2 linked regions of the Homo sapiens genome follow. The protein of the gene in region 1 interacts with the protein of each later gene in a pairwise test. Each region holds a gene or a part of one and is shown in the gene's direction. Other genes may lie near its edges.

Region 1 (7,036 bases):
TGCCTGCCTCCTGTAGCCACACTGGAGACACTTTTGGAGGCTAAACCAAATACTATGCAGCCTATTAATGATTAACATGGCAAACCTTTTTTTCTCCTTTGACAAGTTTTCTTTAAGTGAATTGTAATGTCTGACTTTCATTTCTAGGTTGAGTGGGTGGAGCTCTGGAGCGGTGGGGGTATGTGTGTTTATCGTCATAGAATTTCACTGAAAACTTTGTATAGTTACTAGATTTAGTAAGTTTACATTCTTATCACGTGAGAATTGATTTGAAGCATCACAGTTGTTGAGCAGCAGTTTAATGGTATCGCAAAGCCATAGGTAGTCCTCAGCATAGGAGTTGGAGTCCTAAAAGTTTACTTTGTAAGGTCATTATTTAGAATTCAGCACAGTTTGCTATTAAGTAATATTATAAAGGAAGTTTAGGTTTTTCTGACCGCCTGCAATGACTAAACATTGATTCTGTGTTTTAGTTTTCAAGTGCTGTTATGTTTAACAGAGATAATTTCTTGTGCATCTTCCTTGCACATATGCCTACTTTCATTATCAGTGTGTGGACTTAGCAGAGTAGGGCTCCAGTGCTTTGTAGGAACAGGAGTGCCCCAGTAAGTAAAAAGTTGATGGCTCTCATCAACATTGCTCTAATTGGATCTGATGGGTCAGGAGTAGGTGGAGGGACTTTGTTCCTGTGGGCAGTGGCTTCTAGGAAAATAAATTGGTGCTGCTAGAGGGGAAAGAATGGAAATTTGAGATTGTCCTTTTAGGATCCTACAAAGATAGGTCATATGTCTATATGCTGTTAATGGAATTCTGGCTGAACTCTATGAAGTTGTAAAATCTTGGGATCCTAGCTTCATGGTCAGATATTGATTTGACTAATCACAGTCTCCATATGGGTATATTAAATTCACTTCTCCCTCCCCTAGCAAACTTAGAACAAATGTACCCCTCCCCCTCAAAGCACATTTTTTTGGGTCTTCATTTATTTATATAACTAGGATTTTATTGGCCTAGCATTTGAATATTTATGCTAAGTGTGAAGATGATGGTAAGAGTCCTTTGCTTTTGTGAAGCTCAGATCCAGTGACATGTAAGTAAATAAGCGTAATAGTATGTGACTAGTATTATACAGGAGGGATGTTCTGTGTGTTGCATAGGAACACAGGAAGGGAATGATCATCTCTGGAGTAGGGGTTAGGGGAATGTGTAGCTGTTTCAAGAAAAGATTCACGGGGACATTTAAGTTTTCTTAAAGAGTTGATTACAGTTTTAAGCAGACAAGAATCAGACTCTGATAGCTTCCTTTTTTATACCGTTCTTTTTTTTTTTTGAGACGGAGTTTCGCTTTTGTTTCCCAGGCTGGAGTGCAATGGCGCTATCTCGGCTCACTGCAACCTCTGCCTCCCGCCTTCAAGCAATTCTCCTGCCTCAGCCTCCCAAGTCGCTGGGATTACAGGCATGTGACACCACGCCCGGCTAATTTTGTATTTTTAGTAGAGATGGGGTTTTACCATGTTGGTCAGGCTGGTATCAAAGTCCTGACCTCAGGTAATCCACCCACCTCGGCCTCCCGAAGTGTTGGGATTACAGGCATGAGCCACCACTCCCGGCCTTAACTATTCTTTTGGAGTTAATGTTTGCACTGATGACTTTGTTTTATATTAGTATATTACTTAGTAATACAGTATTAGGTAAAAAGATTATAGATCCTTAATGATCTGTGAAGGGAAAGGTGTTTTCTGGTTAGGAATTTAGGCAGTTGCCATATTTGTGAAAATGTTCACAAAGTCATAATTAAAAACCTCGGATGTGGAGTTGAGCTGTTTTGGAGTTAACTTTGAATGATATTGATAATTGGTTTAAGACTTGGTTTAGGAAATGGGAAGTGCACTAGTTTATATTACAGAATATATAGATAATTGTGAGTTGTAATATGACATTTGACATCACTTCATGACTAGTTTTTCAGATCCTGAAATTGGGCTGCACTGTGAAATAATTCTAAAATTTAGGTAATTGCTGTTTGGTGGTGAAGATACTTGGCAAGAAGACCACTTTTACTTGAGTTTCAGACTTTAATCTGAGTTTAGACTTAGTTATTATAGATGTAAATACCAAAACGGTTGATAATAGATGGATCATCCTAGAGAAAAATTTTAAAAATATGAATATCCAAGTCCACTTAGGTACCTTTCTCATTCTCTTACTATATCTGTTCTCATGAACAAGCAGTCACTAAGATGGACCTGACTCACTCTGAATTCAGTTTTGAAGGCAAACCTTTTTGGGGCTTGCATGGCTTGGCTCTCCATTTTTCAGTCTTGGGGTCAAAATACCTCTGATTGTGTCCCTCAGTTCTGGGCAGATTTCCTCTGTCTTTGCTGTTCATACTGTTAAACCAAAGCAGTCATTTTCTTATCTACCTCTCCTGATCAGTTAAGCAGGTTTGTGCTGTTTTTTCAAACTGTTCCTTTACTCTCAGATTCTATTAGAATTAAAGAAGCAAGAATAGAACCAATTGTATATATAGGTTCTGTTGTGAGATTATAACACTCCATAACCAAATTGCCTGCAATCAGAAGTCTTACTTTCATTACAGGTAGAAATAGCTTATATCATTTGAAATTTTATCTCTCTTAGTTTTGTAATTTCCTATTACCTTACTTAGGTCATTTTAAAAAGTCTACTTGTTTAACCATTTTGGAATTGTTGATTTAAAGGGGCTATAATCCATAAACAAAATAATTTTTGTTTTATAAAACTATTGTCTTATAAGATTTTAATACATTTAAGAGGGTTTCATGTCGCCTGGGAATATAGTTCAAGATTTTAAAACCTCTTTTGAACAAAGGGTACTATCGAATGTGAAAGTTGATGAAAAACAGACTAAAAGTTTTGAATGACTGCTCACTAAAATTTTATTGCTTAATGTATTTGTAGCCTTATGTCTTTTTGGAAAATATAATAACATTATTATGAAGGTAATGTTTAATCATTTCTCAATACTTTCCAGATAGAATTTTTGTAGAACTTTTAGCTTAAGTTTCTTTTTTTAACATAATAAATTCTGCTTTGATTGTCTAGAATGCTTTTATTTAACTGCTCTGACTTTGCCATTTACTAAGTGTTTGCCATGTGTACCAGGCATTATAATAAGCATTTGATATGCTTTATCACATATATTCCTCCTAGACTTCTTATGATGTAAGGTTTATAATTAGCTCTACTTTATAGATGAAGAAACCGAGGCTTGGTGATTTTTTTTTTTGCTTAGGTCAGACTCTAAGGAGTGGAATTAGAATTTGAACCCAGGTTGGACTTACTGTACACATCATATGTGATGGTTATGTATAATAAGATGAAGAAAGGCATTTAGGGACTCAGCCATCTCAGTTATATACTTGTAAACTAAAAAGAACCAGTTGAGCTATAAAAAGAGATTTATATGTTTGGCTGGTTTGTTGTCTAAAGGCTGTAGATAAATGGATAACAGCCTTACTATGGTGCTAACACTTAGCTTAATGTGTGGTTATATCTCTTTATTCTGATAAATTATAGGAAAGATTAGATGCATAATATCTTAAGACTGCAGCGCACATATCTTTGTCCTGTCTTCACAGTCTACCAGTTGGTGTGAACCATAGTCATATACTTTGACAGGCTCTATTGAACATCAGAGGTGTACATCACTTGGTGTGTGAATATCATATATCTCTACCCATGAGTGGAAGCAGTTAAGCTGGGAATATCTCTTTGGAGTTCCAGAGAACATTACTCTGTAATATTCTGTAGGTACAGTTTTGCTTACTGTTACTGCAAGGAGATAAGGGGTAGAGGCAGTTTGGGTGACTGTGCCTCTATTTATAGTGTTTCTGAATTTTCAGGGTTTTTAGATTGGATGCTTTTAGTGGGAAATGGGAAGGAGATGTGTTCTAGTACAAATTTACAGAATTCATTTCCCACAGAAATGATATTTTGTGCACTTCCTGGGACCCAGCTCTTTAAAGCTATTTGATATTTGTGACTGAACTATATGTAAGTACTTAATAGTTACTACTTTTAAAGGACTAGATTATAGTTCATTGAACTAACCTGTAAGTTGAAGATTGCCTTTACTGAACTATTAAGATGATAGATATTTTAAAATTTTTAATTAATATTTTTAAATTAGCATATGAAATTTGATTATGCTGAAGTTGGATATACTAGGAACATGATTTTTAAGCCATACATAATTGAAAGACCCATTTAATCCTTGACATAAAAAATTTAATCATTTGATACTAACTAGGTGACTTTCTTGAAATATAAAAGTATTGTTGGCTTTAAACCCATTTATCAGACTCCAGGAGATATTTTAAATGTGTTAAGGATGTATGATATTTGATCTGTTTCTGATATTTGGTTAAACATTAAAGGGTCAGACACTTTCAATAATGGCATATACATAAACCTTTTAGAAACAACAAAAAAGTCCAGGTTAGGACTTATTTTAACCTGTTATACCAGCAAGTGAGCTTTCCTCACCTTGGTTTTTAGCAATGTCTGTTAAGTGGGTAGCAGAGGTTTTCTCGGCCAGCTAGTTAAGCAGCTGTTTATTTGAAGTGGGATATTTCTGTTTCTGGGCCACTCAGAGTACATCAGGATGTTTCCAACTTGTTCTTTGTCTTATTATTTGGCTGATTCTGCACTGCCATCTGTGACCAGGCTTCATTTAGGGTGAAGTATTGGTGGTGAAAGTAGTGAACCTGATAGAATTTGCTGACTATTGGATGTAGGGGTGAGTACCAGGAAGAATAGTGGTGGTGGTAATGGAGAGGCCAATTATATTTATATGTTACTCTGTGGAGCCAGTATCTTATCATTAGAATCTTTAAATTGACAATTTAACTAGTACGTTTAGATTTGTGAACCCTGAGTCTTCTGAATTCTTATATTAGAAGGGTACCATGCAATGTTTTTTAAATTGAGAAACGAATGAACTTTTATTGTGTTAAGCTACTGAGATCTTGGGATTTGTTATAGCAACTATCATTACCCTAACTAATATAGAAATGGGTTTGTTTTGGTTTGCTTTTTTGAGACAGAGTCTCGCACTGTCGTCTGGGCTGGAGTGCAGTGGCGTGATCTCAGCTCACTGCAACCTCTGCCTCCTGGGTTCAAGTGATTGTCCTGCCTCAGCCTCCTCAGTAGCTGGGATTACAGGCGCCTGCCCACCTAATTTTTCTGTATTTTCAGTAGAGACGGGGTTTCACCATGTTAGCCAGGCTGGTCTCGAACTCCTGACCTCGTGACTCGCGCCCCCCCCCACCCCCCCACCCCCCCCCCCCCAGCCTCCCAAAGTGCTGGAATTACAGGCGTGAGCCACCACCCCTGGCCTGGAAATGGGTTTGGTTTTTTTTTTTTTTTTTTTTTTTTTTTGAGACGGAGTGTCGTTCTGTCGCCCAGGCTGGAGTGCAGTGGCGGGATCTCGGCTCACTGCAAGCTCCGCCTCCCGGGTTCACGCCATTCTCCTGCCTCAGCCTCCCAAGTAGCTGGGACTACAGGCGCCCGCCACTACGCCCGGCTAATTTTTTGTATTTTTAGTAGAGACGGGGTTTCACCGTTTTAGCCGGGTGGAAATGGGTTTTTAATCAAGCTAAAAGATAATGTTAGGCCGGGCGCTGCGCTGACGCCTGTAATCCCAGCACTTTGGGAGGCCGAGGTGGGCGGATCATGAGATCAGGAGATCGAGACCATGCTGGCTAACACGGTGAAACCCCGTCTCTACTAAAAATATAAAAAATTAGCCGGGCGTGGTGGCAGGCACCTGTAGTCCCAGCTACTTGGGACGTGACGCAGGAGAATGGCATGAACCTGGGAGGCAGAGTTTGTAGTGAGCTGAGATCGCGCCACTGCACTCCAGCCTGGGCGACAGAGTAAGACTCTGTCTCAAAAAAAAAAGAAAAGAAAAAGAAAAAGGTAATGATATTAGCAGGGCTGGATAAATAACATTATATTACTTTTTACAAGTCAAATTGAGTTGAGATCTCAAAGTCTCTGCTTTTCCTAATGCTGTAGCTTACAATACCAAAATAACTAGTTGAAAATTCAGTTGATTATTGTCATTTGTTATTAGGTCTAACACATGATTTTCCTGATATTTAAGTTATTTATTTATTTATTTATTTATTTATTTAGAGACAGGGTCTCGCTCTGTTGTCCAGGCTGGAGTGCAGTGGCACAACCCTGGCTCACCGCAACCTCCGCCTCCCAGGTTCAAGCGATTCTCCAGCCTCAGCCTTCCACACCTGCCACCACACCTGCTGCTGCCACGTATTTTTAGTAGAGATGAGGTTTCCACCATGTTGGCCAGACTGGTCTGGAACTCCTGACCTCAAGTGATCCTCCCAGCTGGGCCTCCCAAAGTGCTGGGATTACAGGCGTGAACCACTGCACCCAGCCCTGATATTTAAATTAAATTCATTGATATTTAAACTGAAGAGGCAGTTTTTTAATGGCATAAAAAATTTCCGGCCAGGCACAGTGGCTCATGCCTGTAATCTCAGCACTTTGGGAGGCTGAAATGGGCAGATCACCTGAGGTCAGGAGTTCGAGACCAGCCTGGTCAACATGGAGAAACCCTGTCTCTACTAAAAATACAAAAAAATTAGCTGGGCATAGTGGCACGCGCCTGTAATCCCAGCTACTCGGGAGGCTGAGGCACGAGAATTGCTTAAGCCTGGGAGGCGGAGGTTGCTGGGAGCTGAGCTCATGCCACTGTACTCCAGCCTGGGTGACAGAGCAAGACTCTATCTCCAAAAAAAAAAAAAAACAAAAAAAATTCCAAGTGTTACTTTTTACCTAGTTTAGGCACATGAAAAAATTAATAATGTTTCTGTTTTCTTTTCTGTTTTTTTTTTTTGAGACAGTCTCTCCCTCTGTTGCCAGGTTGGAGGACAGTGGCACGACCTTGGCTCACCTCTCTGCCTCTTGGGCTAAAGTGATCCTCCTACCCCAGCCTACTAAGTAGCTGGGACTACAGGCATGCACCACC
Region 2 (5,989 bases), on another chromosome or scaffold:
CAACCTGTAGTTGTTTAAGTTATGAGGGAATATGGGGCCCAAGACAAAACGATGGGAATTCCATTTTATCATCTGGAACGTTTTCAGCCGCAAGTAACAAAATTGAGCAAGCTACTTTAAGAGTAAAGGGGATTGGCCAGCTCGGCGTGGTGGCTCACACCTGTAATCTCAGCACTTTGGGGGGCTGAGGTGGGAGGATTGCTTGTCCCCAGGAGTTCAAGACCAGCCTGAGCAACATAGGGAGACCCCATCTCTACAAAAATAATAAAGAAATCAGCTGGGCGTGGTAGTGCGTGTTTGTTGTCCCAGCTACTTGGAAGGCTGTGGTGGGAGGATTGCCTGAGCCTGGGAGGTCGAGGCTGTGGTGAACTATGATTGTGTAACTGCAGTCTAGCCTGGACAACAGAGTGAGACCTTGACTCAAAAAAAGTAAAGGGGATTTATTAGTTTAGTATGTAAAAATCCAGTGGTAGGGTGGGATTCAGGGTTTTTTGATGAGGATTCTGACTCCATTTTTCTGTGATTATTTTTGTCCTGCCACCTTCTTGAGTCAGCTTTGTTCTGAATCTTGCTTTCCTCATGGAGGTAAAGTGACTCCAGTGATTGCAAGATTCCATCAGCAAGCTGCATATTGTAGGAGAGAGCATCTATGTTCCTGAATTCCTGGCTGAAGTCCTAAGCTTTGAGCTGATTAATCAGTTTTGATGTAGGGCATTGTTACCAAGCAAAAGAGATCCCTCTAATTGGTTAAGACCAGTCAGGGGTTATCCATGAAGATGGGTTAGTCTAACCAAAAGGGCATGGCTGCTATACTAGGAGGAGAGTGGATGTTTGCAAGGAAAGCACAAAGTTCACTCTTATCTATCATCCATCATAAAGGAAAGAGCCAGTGAAAAACAGGGAAATGGTAAGAGAGATTAAAAGAGGGCCTTAGAAAATACCTGAGCCCAGAGTAGAGTTTTAAAGAGTGGAAAGGATTGTTTTGTTTTGTTTTCTGTTTGTTTTTTGAGACAGGGTCTGGCTCTGTTGCTCAGGCTGGAGTGCAGTGGTGCCCTTCCGGCTCACATCAGCCTCCAGAGTAGCTGGCACTACAGGCATAAATGGAAAGGGTTTTGAAGAAGAAGGACTAAAACAGTGTCAATTCAAACAGCCTTTGGATTTGGTGGAGACCACCAGTGATCTTAGAACAATGCCTACAGTCTGGAGGAGTAAGAATCAGATGGTGTGTTGGTGATGAACAAATATATGCCAATGATATAGAAGCAGCAAATGTATATATTTTTCTTTCTCTCTTTTTTTTTTTTTAAAGAAATTAGTAAATAGAAGGCGGCAGTTTAAGGAATAACTGGATTAAGGGCGGTTAAAAAGTAAATTGTAAAAAAAAGATTGTGAAAGACTTTCTGCTCTTGTTTGCTGGATGAAGAGAATGAGTTTATGGCTTGAGTCAGGCAGTCTTGGTTTGACCTCTGGCTCTAAAGACAGCTTCCTGTATGGCCCTGAACAAGCTACTCAGTTTTCTCAGCTTCTGATTAGTGATGAACATAATAAACATTTCATAGGAAAGCTATAAGGGTTAAGTAAGATAATGTAATTGTGGAAGAGATTTGTCAACTAACCTGTTATACAAATATTAGTTGATAGTAAGCACATTGTTTATTTAAACCCTATCTTCTCATAAAAGAATGTAAGTTATTTTAAAAATAATAGTATGTATAGCTGAAAGGTATGTAGAGTTGAGAAAGGGGAAAGGCAAGTGAAAGAGGAGAGAGAGAGAAGAATGAGAATATGAATGAATTAATAAAGCATGACTCCAGTTCAAAAACAGTTATTCCTCTTAGCATCCTATGTAACTGTGCAAAGCCAAAAGCCCTTAGATTTGACATAATTTTTGCTAGCAGTATTTTGTGTGGCCCCAGAGAGAGGCCTCTTGTTGACTTCCATATATACAGTTTCAGTTCCTTTTGTAATAAAAAGAAAGGAACATGGTACAGAAAGGTTATTGTTTAGGTTATCAAGATTACCTTTATTTGAAGTTGTTGCAAATAGTAGCAATAGTGATAATAATGTTTAATAGTGATAATAGCAGTAGCAGTTGCTGTCATCCCTAAGCTAGTGTATGATTGATTTTAGCTTTGTCTGACTCTAAAAATACTTTTAGCCACATTCTAGTCTAATTCTAAAATTCTTTGATCATACATTCTTATTAGTTAAGTTGGTAGATCTTTTATAGTAATTAAATAGAATTTTATTCCTGTATATTTATTTCTTAGGTAGAACAGTATCACATTCTATGCTTCATTTTAAGCAGTCCTGCCGGGCGCAGTGGCTCACGCCTGTAATCCCAGCACTTTGGGAGGCTGAGATGGGTGGATCTCCTGAGGTCAGGAGTTCGAGACCAGCCTGGCCAACATGGTGAAACCCTGTCTCTACTAAAAATACAAAAATTAGCTGGGTGTCATGGCGGGCACCTGTAATCCCAGCTACTCAGGAGGCTAAGACAGGAGAATCACTTGAACCCAGAAGGCAGAGGTTGCAGTGAGCCGAGATCGTGCCATTACACTCCAGCCTTGGGTAACAAGAGCAAAACTCTGTCTCAAAAAAAAAAAAAAAAAAAAAAGAGAAACAAACAAACAAAAACATTTGAAGCAGTCTGATATTTTCAACTACACAGGGAGAATAACAGTACTTACTTTATATGGTGATAGTAAAGATAGAATGAGCTAAAAACAAAATAAAACAAAACCAGCTTAGAGTGGTGCCAGGCATGGTTGTTAGTGGCTAGTATTATCATTCTTGTTGTTTTTTTTATCAGTGCTTGATATAAATGAGAAAGCACTAAGTGAATGGGTACTTCAGCATAAAAGAGTTGTTGAAGACATGTGGAGATTTAGTTTTGAATAAATTAATAATAATAAGTTTCCTTAACTACAACTCAGATTCCATGCTGGTTTCCATTGTGGGGATGGCACTATACACAGGATACGTCTTCATGCCCCAGCACATCATGGCGATATTGCACTACTTTGAAATCGTACAATGACCAAGATGCGACCAGGATCAGAGGTTCCTTGGGGAAGACCCACCCTACGAAGTTGGAATGAGACCATCAGATGTGATAAGAAACTCTTCTAGATGTCAACATAACCAACCTTATAAAGACTAAAATTCATGAGTAGAACAGGAAAATCATCCTGACTCATGTGTTGTGTTCTTTATTTTTAATTTTCAAAGAGGCTCTTGTATAGCAGTTTTTGTCTATTTTAACATTGTAGTCATTTGTACTTTGATATCAGTATTTTCTTAACCTTTGTGACTGTTTCAATATTACCCCCGTGAAAGCTTTTCTTAATGTAACTTTGAGTACATTTTAATTGCCTTCTATTTTTAAAACTCAAAATCATTAGTTGGGCTTTACTGTTCTTGCTATTGTATGGCATATACATCTGCCTGGATATATTTCTACTCTTGACCAAAGTTTTGTAAAGAACAATATAAGATTTCGGGTAGGGGTATGGGGAGGGAAGATATTTTATTGAGAACTACTTAACAAAAGATTTATCTGTAAGCTTGAACTCAGGAGTACAGTTTTAGCTATCTAGACTCTAACAGCTTTTGCTTTAAAATTATTAAAGTGTTTCTTAATGAAAAAGAAAAGATCTTGCTAAAGTTAAAATAAGGAACATTTCACCTTTTAAATATTTAATTCTTATGTGGACTTATTTCCAGAAAACTTTGGTGATAATTCTTGAGACAAAAGGTGGTTAAGTAGCATTATTATGTAATGCTTATATACCATAGAGTTTTTAATAGAAGAGAAATCCATTTCCTCCGAGGGTCACTATTAACAATGTACTTCCTTAAATTTAGTTTAATGATTGTAATGGGTGCTGCATTTGCACATTGCATTAAGTTATGATGAGACGAATTGTTGTTAAAAATTATAGCAAAAAGAAATGTAAACTTGGTTAAAATCCTTTCACTCTTTGTATTGTTTTTTTTAAGGTTTTTATTCCTTAAATGTAAAATGACTACCTAATTTTTTGATGTAAATACATTAAATTCAAAGAGAAAAAAAATCAGCTGATGTAGCAGTATATCTTTTCCTTGATGGTTAAATATTGATCTAGTATTTATATTGCTGAATTATTTTCTGTGGAGGACCAGATAAGCAGTAAGTATGTCTTATCCTATATGTTTTGCAACATAAAAATATTGCTAATTGAAAAGAATTAGGCAATTATGTGTGTTGCTGGGTTGTTTTTTTGTTTTTTTTTTTTTGAGACGGAGTCTTGCCCTGTCGCCCAGGATGGAGTGCAACAGCATGATCTCGGTTCACTGCAACCTCCATCTCCTGGGATCAAGTGATTCTCCTGCCTCAGCCTCCTGAATAGCTGGGATTACAGGCACCTGCCACCATGCCTGGCTAATTTTTTGTATCTGTAGTAGAGACGGGGTTTCACTGTGTTGGCCAGGATGGTCTCAAACTCCTGACCTCCTGATCCACCTGCCTCGGCCTCCCAAAGTGCTGGGTTTACAGGCGTGAGCCACCGCGCCCGGCCAAAATTGAGGTATTTTTTGCCCTACGTTTTAAGGACTAGACTTTTGAAGTATTTTATAGTCTAGAGGTCTCAAGTAATATATATGTGTTTAATATTTTTAGAGCCAATTGATACCACAATTAGATAGGAGTAGTGAGAATAATATGGAATTACTTGGTTTGAAGTAGTTAAAAATTGGATATGGTTATATCTGAGCTGTAGTCATATTATCTCAAGAAAAATAATACGAGGATTTAACATAAGATTTGTTCTATTAATGCCCAAATTTGGCTTTCCTCTACTATCCCCCATAGAGAACCACTAACAAGTGGATGTCTAATATTCCTCTGGTGAGTTGAAGGCAGGAGAAGTTGAGAATCATTAGTTTCAATGAGTATCCAGGTGACCTATCCTGGCCCTCTACTCAGAAACCGGCAATTTGTCTTCACTCTGAGATTCATTAAATTGCTGTTGTATAACTGATGGTTATTATGAACACTGACCTGTGAGACATATGGAAGATAAAGTTTGGTCTTACAGGAAATCTTGAGGAGAGTCAAAAGAGAAATGGGAGATGTCTCTTGAGAGGTGATCAGAGAAGTTTATGCTCACTGTCTGATGCAAATGTCTGGTCTATTTGTTAGTAAATAACAGGGAAATCATTTTCACTTTTTGTTAAAAATAAGGTATTTACAAGCATACCTTGTAGTTATTGTGGGTTCAGTTTCAGACCACTGCAATAAAGTGAATATCTCAATAAAGTGAGTCACATGAAGTTTTTTGGTTTTCCCCTGCATATAAAAGTTACATTTACACCATCCTGTAGTCTATTAAGTGTGCAGTAGCATTATGGCTAAAAAAAAAAAACACCCAATATACCTATCTTAATTAAAGAATTATTTATTGCTGAAAAAAGCTAATGATTATTTGAGCCTTCAACAAGTCATAATTTTTTGTTGGTGGAGGGTCTTGCCTTGATGTTGATGGCTGCTGACTGATCTGGGTCATGGTTGCGGAAGGTTGGGGTGGCTATGGCAATTTTTAAAAATAAGACAACAATAAAGTTTGCTGCATTGATCAACTCTTCATTCATGAAAGATTTCTCTGTAGCATGTAAGCTATTTGATAGCCTTTTACCCACAATGGAACTTCCTCCAAAATTGGAAGCAATCCTTTCAAACCCTGCTGCTGCTTTATCAACTAAGTTTATAAAATATCCTAAGTCCTTCATTGTAATTTCAACAATGTTCATAGCACCTTCACCAGGTGTATATGCCATCTCAAGAAACCACTTTCTTTGCTCATCCATAAAAGGCAAAACCTTGTCTGTTCAAGTTTTACCGTGAGATTGCAGTAATTCACTCACATCATCAGGCTCCATATGTAGTTCTCTTGCTATTTTTAGCATATCTACAGTTAACTTCCTCCACTGAAATTTTGAACCCCTCCAA

The links.
Region 2: the proteins of HERPUD2 (region 1) and SPTSSA interact in binary tests that used the Homo sapiens proteins (3 or more experiments, as listed by UniProt).

Annotation. Positions count from the first base shown.
Region 1 is NC_000007.14:35,685,104-35,692,139, reverse strand, and holds part of HERPUD2 (homocysteine-responsive endoplasmic reticulum-resident ubiquitin-like domain member 2 protein), read left to right. Parts: intron 1-7,036. UniProt on the Homo sapiens protein: Could be involved in the unfolded protein response (UPR) pathway.
Region 2 is NC_000014.9:34,432,252-34,438,240, reverse strand, and holds the end of SPTSSA (serine palmitoyltransferase small subunit A), read left to right. Parts: intron 1-2,936; coding exon 2,937-3,040; 3' UTR 3,041-5,453; downstream 5,454-5,989. UniProt on the Homo sapiens protein: Component of the serine palmitoyltransferase multisubunit enzyme (SPT) that catalyzes the initial and rate-limiting step in sphingolipid biosynthesis by condensing L-serine and activated acyl-CoA (most commonly palmitoyl-CoA) to form long-chain bases.